Linked DNA regions of Homo sapiens. The protein of the gene in region 1 purifies or fractionates together with the protein of each later gene. This does not show direct contact. Each region holds a gene or a part of one and is shown on either strand. Other genes may lie near its edges.

Region 1 (4,145 bases):
GTGAGCAGCTAATGGGGCATCCCGGCTGGAGGTGAGGCCACGCCAGAGGAGGTGAGGGGCTGGGAAGATGCAGGAACACAGAGGGGCCAGGGAGGAATTGGGGTCCTGTCTGGGTAGGGGCCGAGTGTGTAGCCAGTGCCTCTCAAGAGCAGGGCTTGGGGGCTCGGCCACAACCCAGCGCTATTCCCTCCCCAGCCCTCCTGCCTGTTCACACCTGCGCTGGGGCCAGGTCTTCTCCACCCTTGATGCACCCCTGGGCAGGTCCCGGGCCTCACTGGCTCACCCCTGACAACACAGGGTGCCCTGTGACTGCAGCCATGAAGCCATCTCCAAGTGGCAGTGGGTGTGTGGGGTAAGGAGTGATCACACCCGGGTGCGGTTCTGCACAGGCTGTGGGCTTGTTTTAGTTTTTGCGAGGAGGGCCCCTCTGTTCTCCCTCTGCTTCCGCACTAGCCCCATGGTGGTGGCTTCCGACCTTCCCAGGGCTGGAGGAAGGAGCGGGAGGAGGAAGGCAAGGGGCGGGGGCAGCCTCTGCTGACCAGCACTGGAGGGCCCAGGTTGTGGCCCCCACTCTGCCTGTCAAGGGGTGGCACAGATGTCCAAGCCGACTCCCCCCAGGGTGCATGGCTGGGGACACTGGGGGACACTCCCCAAGGCACAGGGAATGTGGCACCGGCCGGCTGCGTAGCTTCCTTCTCTCAGCCCTGGAAGTCCTCCCAGCCTTTCATGTTTCCCACTGGGGTCACCTGAGCCTCCCAGGAGGACCTAAGGAAGATTTCTAACCTCTCTGGATGCTCTCTCAGGTGTGCCCACGCCTGCTGGTGAGAAGCCAGCTCTGCTCTGTGATTCTGTCTCTGTCTCTCAATGTGCCCGTGTCTTTCTGTCTGTCTGTCAGTCTGTCTCTATTTCCTGCCTCAGAATGACAACACAGCTCTCCACATCAGTTTTCTCAGGCGTGTATGGGTCACCTGACCACTCTGCCCCTTCCGAATTCCAGGTCCCCCATCATAAACCTCTCTCTGTGTGGCCTCCTGGCAGCTCTGGTCACCAGGCTTCAGGGGGGACAGCAAGGGGGTCTCAGCCTATCACTAACTCCCTCAAAGACACCATCTCACTGCTTTTCATACCTCGGAGCCACTAAATTGGTCCATGCTCGCCTTTTTCTCGAGAGCAGCACCTGGGGTGCAGCGCCCGCTGTGAGCGGAGAACTGGCCTCCTACTGTTCAGTGTGTTGTTGGGAACTGAGAAATGGACAGAATGGAGGAAGAATCCACAGCAGTGTGGTTTCCCCTCCTGCAGCAAGAGCGAAGCCCTGGGGAGCCATTGGGTTTTCCAGATCTTCTCTGCTTTGGCCCCACCCACCTGGCGTCTGGATCTTTGCCCAAGGTCACCTTCTCCGAGGGCCTTCCCGGGTGCCTCAGCCACACTCATCCCTCCTGTGAATCTCACTTTTGTTGTCTTTCTTCAGTGCGACATCGTCTTGGCTGGCTCCTGAGCTAGAATGCCGGCCTCCTGAGGGCAAAGGCTTTGGTCTGCTTTGTCTACTACACGTTGCACAGCAGGTGTTTGGGAACCTAAATGCACGATCCATTGTCTGGACCCTGGGAGGACTGTGAGAGCTGGGGTTGTGGAGGGCGGCCTGCGTCTGGAGTCCTGGCCCCCTAGCTTCCTGGCCACCTGCTCTTCACCTGCTCTTCACGCCTCAGCAATGTCTATTGATGGCCATATCTCATGGTCAATCAGCCATGTAGTAGGTTTATGTCAGCAGCTGTGCTGAGGGACAGGGTGGGAAGGGGAAGATGCTCGATGGTTGCCAGGGAGCTTAAGCCAGGCCCTTCAGGCTTAGGACTGCCTCAGCTCCCTCCAGGGTATCTTGCCTTAAAAACCCTTGGCGGCTCTCGACTAGAGATCCCCAAGGTTGGTCCTACGCCTTATCTTTTTGGTGTCCTAACAACTGGCTCTGTACTGGGTGCATTTCCAGGTGCTCAGTATCTGTGTGCAGAATGAATGAAGAAAGAGTTGAATGACACCAGACCCCATTTTGGGCACAGACACCCCAACACCCTCCTGTCTCATTTAAACAGTTTTTGTTGTTGTTGTTTTGAGGCGGAGTCTCACTCTGTTGCATAGGCTGGAGTGCAGTGGCGTGATCTCGGCTCACCGCTACCTCCGCCTCCCAGGTTCAAGCGACTCTCCTGCCTCAGCCTCCCAAGTAGCTGAGATTACAGGTGTGAATCACCACGCTCAGCTAATTTTTGTATTTTTGGTAGAGACAGGATTTTACCATGTTGGCTAGGCTGGTCTTGAACTCCTGACCTCAGGTGATCTGCCCACCTTGGCCTCCCAGAGTGCTGTGATTACAGGCGTGATCCACCACGCCTGGGCTTTAAACAGTTCTTAAAGCCTCACCTTCCTCCAGAAAAGTTAATGGTGCTCACAAGAATCAAACCAGGGACAAAGTGGATTGATGGGGCGATCAAGGCCTCCCTGAACCATAATTCCTAGAGTTACCGTCCGGGTACTGAGCAGAGATGGGAGGGAAAGGAAGGTGGGAGAGGAAGGTGGCAGTTTGGGGACACCTGCCACGTGCCAGGAGCCAATCTCCCTGATGATCAGATAATTACACCCCTGCCCTCTAAGGAGAATGGGCTTTAGCCCCTTTGCAGAAGCAGGTGAATGGGTGGAGAAAGATCAAACCCGAGAAGCGGAGAGGGGAGCTGGGGCACCTAACTGGAAAGTCTGAATCAGTGAACAGAATTAGAGAACGGGTGCAGAGGACCTCGAATGACAGAAAAGCTGTGAGGTTTCTCAGGGTGGCTGGTCTTCAAGACTTTCTCTGGCAGCTATGGGTTGTGCAAGAATTGGGTAGCGTCACTTTTGGGAAGAGCTGTTTTGAATCGGCTTCCCCTTTTCACATTCTTCGAAAAATGCAAATAAAGGATGGAGGTTGGTTTTCTGGGGGACTTTCGGCTTCTGTGCTGGGTCTCAATGTGGCTCCAGCATATAGAAGACGATGCCTCACTTCCTATCGTGGGCCACCTGCGTGGTAGGCAGTGGCCTTTCCCTCTCCACTTTACAGATGGAGAAGCCGAGACTCAGGCAAGCTGGCGAGCCCTGCCAAGATCACCGGGCTAGTTAAGCCGAAGAATCAAGATTCAAGTTCTCATGTTTGTCTGTCTGCAAAGCCAGTATGCTTTTCCTAACAAGACACCAGACTCTCTAATCTGCTGGTTTGATCAGTAAACCACTGTGACTCCATTTCCTTCCCCCCAGGCCCCATGAAGACTTTCCCCTCTCCTCATCCCCACTCTGACTCCACAGACTGAAAAGAGTTCACTGGTTCTTTGAAGTGGCATCTGAGCCATTTTTATTGTGAGCTCTGTCTCCCTGGCAGGTTAATCCACACCAGTGTGTCCATCTCAAACCCGGAGTCCCCAGAGTCAAGGGGCCGCTGATACGTACGTCTCCCCGTGCAATGCCTCACTTCCAAAGGAGAAGCCAGGCCAGGACTGGGCCCCTTTCTACTTCGTTTCTGTCCTTTTCTGGGCTTTCCCTCAGAGGCAGAAACTGGGCATAATATTCGTGAGTGGGGATGTCAGATCAGGGGTAGAGGGCCAGAGAGATGGAGAAGGGAAGGAAAAATGATGACGAGCAGATCCCAGGAGGGACACAAGCAGCTGGGGGTGGAGATGGCCAGTGGCCGTGGTGGGGGCAGGGGGAGGTGTGCATGTCAGGGCAGGTATTTAGATGGATTTCTGGGTAGCAAGGAGAGTGGAAGAGAACAGGGGCAGGAGTTTTGGAGGTTTGGGGTTACCCTCACCAAAAAGACTGGCTCTGAGCCAGGCACAAGGTTCTCCGCAGTGAGTGTGTGTGTGTGTGTGTGCGTGTGTGTGTGTGTGTGCGCACATGCGCGCAGGAGGAAGCCATGTGGCGGTGTCTGGGGAAACTCGGGGACTTCCCTGGCCCCCGCTGCCCCCAGTGCCTCTGCTGCAGCCCATCCAGTGTCAATGTTTGAGGATCACATAGTCCACATTTTCTTGTGCCTGAGGCCGCTCCCCGACCCCAAACTGGATCAGCTCTGAGTAATGAATCCCCTCATCTTCTGGAAAATCTGGAATGACGTTCTCATAGTCGCCCTGAGAAAA
Region 2 (3,500 bases), on another chromosome or scaffold:
GAGTATCGCTCTTGTTGCCCAGGCTGGAGTGCAATGGTGCGATCTCGGCTCACCGCAACCTCCACCTCCCGGGTTCAGGCGATTCTCCTGCCTCAGCCTCCCAAGTAGCTGGGATTACAGGCATGCGCCACCACGTCCAACTAATTTTATATTTTTAGTAGAGACAGGGTTTCTCTATGTTGGTCAGGCTGGACTCGAACTCCCGACCTCAGGTGATCTGCCCACCTCGGCCTCCCAAAGTGCTGGAATTACAGGTATGAGCCACCACACCCAGCCCCACCTGGCTACTATTTTTAATTTTTTAATTTTAATTTTTTTTTTTGAGATGGAGTCTTGCTTTGTCACTCCGGCTAGAGTGCAGTGGTGCAATCTCAGCTCAGTGCAACCTCCGCCTCCTGGATTCAAGTGATCCTCCTGCCTCAGCCTCCCAAGTAGCTGGGATTACAGGCATGTGCCACCATGCCCAGCTAACTTCTGTATTTTTAGTAGAGACGGGGTATCACCATGTTGGCGAGGCTGGTCTTAAACTCCTAACCTGAAGTGATCCGCCCACCTCAGCCTCCCAAAGTGCTGAGATTACAGGCGTTAGCCACCGCGCCCAGCCTTATTTTTTATAGAGATGAGGTTTTGCCGTATTGCCCAGGCTAGTTTCAAATTCCTGGGCTCAAGCAATCTGCCTGCCTCGGCCTCTCAGAGTGCTGGGAGTGTCACCACACCTGGCCACAGTCTTTTTTTTTAAATTTAAGTGTATATAGTGAGCAATTTCTCCATGTTAAGGAATAGATTTCCACAGCATCATTTAAAGTCTCACTGTATGCCATCTTGTGTTTTATTTGGCCAACAGTCATTGTTAGCCTTATAGGTTGTTCAGAATTTTGCTATTTCAATAAGCACTGTGGTGAACCTCCTTGTAGCAAATCTTTTGTAGATTCCTAATTACTCCAACCAAGTCTTCAGTGGAGGTGCCATGTTCATGCTATGCACTTTCTGGAGACTTCTGTCTGACTCATTCAGTCCAATTATTCTGCCAGAAGGCTGAATTTAATTCCATGTGGGGCTGAAGCACCATACCTGAGTCCATAGACAGGAGCGTTTTACTTAGAAAGAAAAAATAACTGGTCAGTCTTAACTCAAAAGGGTGTAAATCACAGGTTTGCTCGGTAATAAAAAATTCAGACTGCCTCTGTTCTTTCAATAGCAGTTCTTGTGAGACACTGGTTTTGGTCTCAGGGTTTGCGTCACCTTTCTGAAATTGATAATCACCAATTTGAATTCCTGTCCTGGAAGCAGCTGTCTTTTAACCTAGGTTTCCAAACTTTGGGGGTGGTAGGATTATGGCCGAATAAAGTTTTCTGGATGTGCTGTGGAGGAGGGTGGTACAGGCCAGATGATGGAAGCCTAGGGACAAAAACAAGCAACATGGGATCTCCCTGGTGTCTGATTTTTATTTATTTATTTATTTTTAAAGAGACAGGGTCTCACTCTGTCACCCAGGCTGGAGTGCAGTGGTGTGATCACTGCTCACTGCAGCCCTAAACTCCTGGGCTCAAGCGATCCTTCTGCCTCAGCCTCCTGAGTAGCTGGGACTAGAGACACATGCTACCATGCCTGGCACTTAAAACTTTTTCTTTTTGGCCAGGCACGGTGGCTCACGCCGGTAATCCCAGCACATTGGGAGGCTGAGGTGGGCGGATCATGAGGTCAGGAGATCGAGACCATCCTGGCTAACACGGTGAGATCGAAACCATCCTGGCTAACATGGTGAAACCCCATCTCTACTAAAAATACAAAAAATTAGCCAGGCATGGTGGCGGGTGCCTGTAGTCCCAGCTACTCGGGAGGCTGAGGCAAGAGAATGGTGTGAACCCAGTAGGCAGAGGTTGCAGTGAGCCAAGATCGCGCCACTGCACTCCAGCCTAGGCAACAGAGTGAGATTCCGTCTCAAAAAAAAAAAAAACAAAAAAAACTTTTTCTTTTTTTTGCCGGGCACGGTGGCTCACACCTGTAATCCCAGCATTTTGGGAGCCCGAGGCGGGCAGATCACGAGGTCAAGGGATCGAGACCTTCCTGGCCAACATGGTGAAACCCTGTCTCTACTAAAAATACAAAAATTAGCTGGGCGTGGTGGCACGTGCCTGTAGTCCCAACTACTTGGGAGGCTAAGGCAGGAGAATTGCTTGAACCCGGGAGGTGGAGGTTGCAGTGAGCCGAGATCACACCACTGAACTCCAGCCTGGTGACAGAGCAAGACTCCATCTCAAAAAAAAAAAAAAAATTTTTTTTTTTTTTGTAGAGACTGAGTCTCTCTTTTTCGCCTAGGCTGGTCTCAAATGCTTGGCTTCAAGCAACCCTCCTACCTAGACCTCCCAAAGTACTGGGATTATAGCTGTGAGCCATTGCACCCAGACTGATTTTTAATAATGTGCTAGCAGCATGACCTTTACACCTTGGAACCTTGCCTCTGCTGCTACAGAGCCTGGCGTTTCCCTTCAGGTCACCTCGACAGAGTGGGGTCCATTCTGCTCTGAATCCAAACTGCAGCAAAGTAGCAGATGCAAAGCAGACAGGAATGCAACTTCTTGGCAAGGACATCACCTTGCTTCACCTGCTAGGACTGCACTCAGAAAACAGGTAGGAATTGAAGTCCGACAGCAAAGCAGAAGGTGGTGGTTCTGAGTCAGTGCTGGGTGCGGGGGAAAGCACTCACGCGGGCCTTCATGAGTGCCAGGGCCCTCTCTGAGAACCCGATCAGCCTCATGCAGTGATGGATCCTGCCGGGGCCCAGTCTGCCCTGGGCGATCTCAAAGCCTCGGCCAGGGCCCAGGACCATGTTCTCTTTGGGCACACGCACGTGCTCAAATCGGACTTCACCATGGCCACCTGAAAGACCCAAACGATCACTGTGAGCAATAGCCATAGTCATTTTCCTTGGATGTGTTTATTCCTCACCTCAGTCTGGGTTATCTGCTGGCAATGTCCCTGCCCTTTATTTAGCCTTCTTACTGGGACATGGTTAAAGGGAAAAGGACGGCAGGAAACAGCCTGTTAAACACAGAAAATGAATCACTGATTTATAATGGCAAATGACTATTCTGTGATTCCTTTTATAAAAACATAATAATGCCACCTTAAGCTGAAGCTCCTAGTGGTTTGTGACAATGTAGTGATCCTATGAAAACACTGAAAGTAAAAATGTGAACACTATTAGCAGAGAACCAAACTGGGAGCGGACCAAACCAGGGCTGTGGCCTAGAGGTCAGCTGTTCACACTGGGGCCTGGAAGAGTAGGTTTGGGGTCCACTTCCTGCGTCTGCCCTGTATGGCTTCCTGTGTCACAGACTCCTGATTACTTTCTAAGTTTAGAAGAGGGAAAAAAATCCATAAATGCCTGTCTGAAATCCGCCTGCATGGTTGATATTCATGTATGGAAATGAAATGCAGGAGCATGTGACTCCAAATGTCATCATACCCTCAGACGTGGGATGTGGCAAGTCCTGAAC

What was found. The genes of interacting proteins can lie anywhere in the genome.
Region 2: the proteins of FFAR1 (region 1) and ACAD10 purify together in Homo sapiens (affinity purification with mass spectrometry; one large-scale study listed by BioGRID and IntAct). This does not show direct contact.

What each region holds. Positions count from the first base shown.
Region 1 is NC_000019.10:35,346,557-35,350,701, reverse strand, and holds the start of FFAR1 (free fatty acid receptor 1), read right to left. Parts: upstream 2,801-4,145; 5' UTR 1-2,800. Other genes in the region: B-cell receptor CD22 isoform 1 precursor, read right to left, coding at 4,005-4,136.
Region 2 is NC_000012.12:111,748,553-111,752,052, reverse strand, and holds part of ACAD10 (acyl-CoA dehydrogenase family member 10), read right to left. Parts: intron 2,881-3,500; coding exon 2,708-2,880; intron 1-2,707.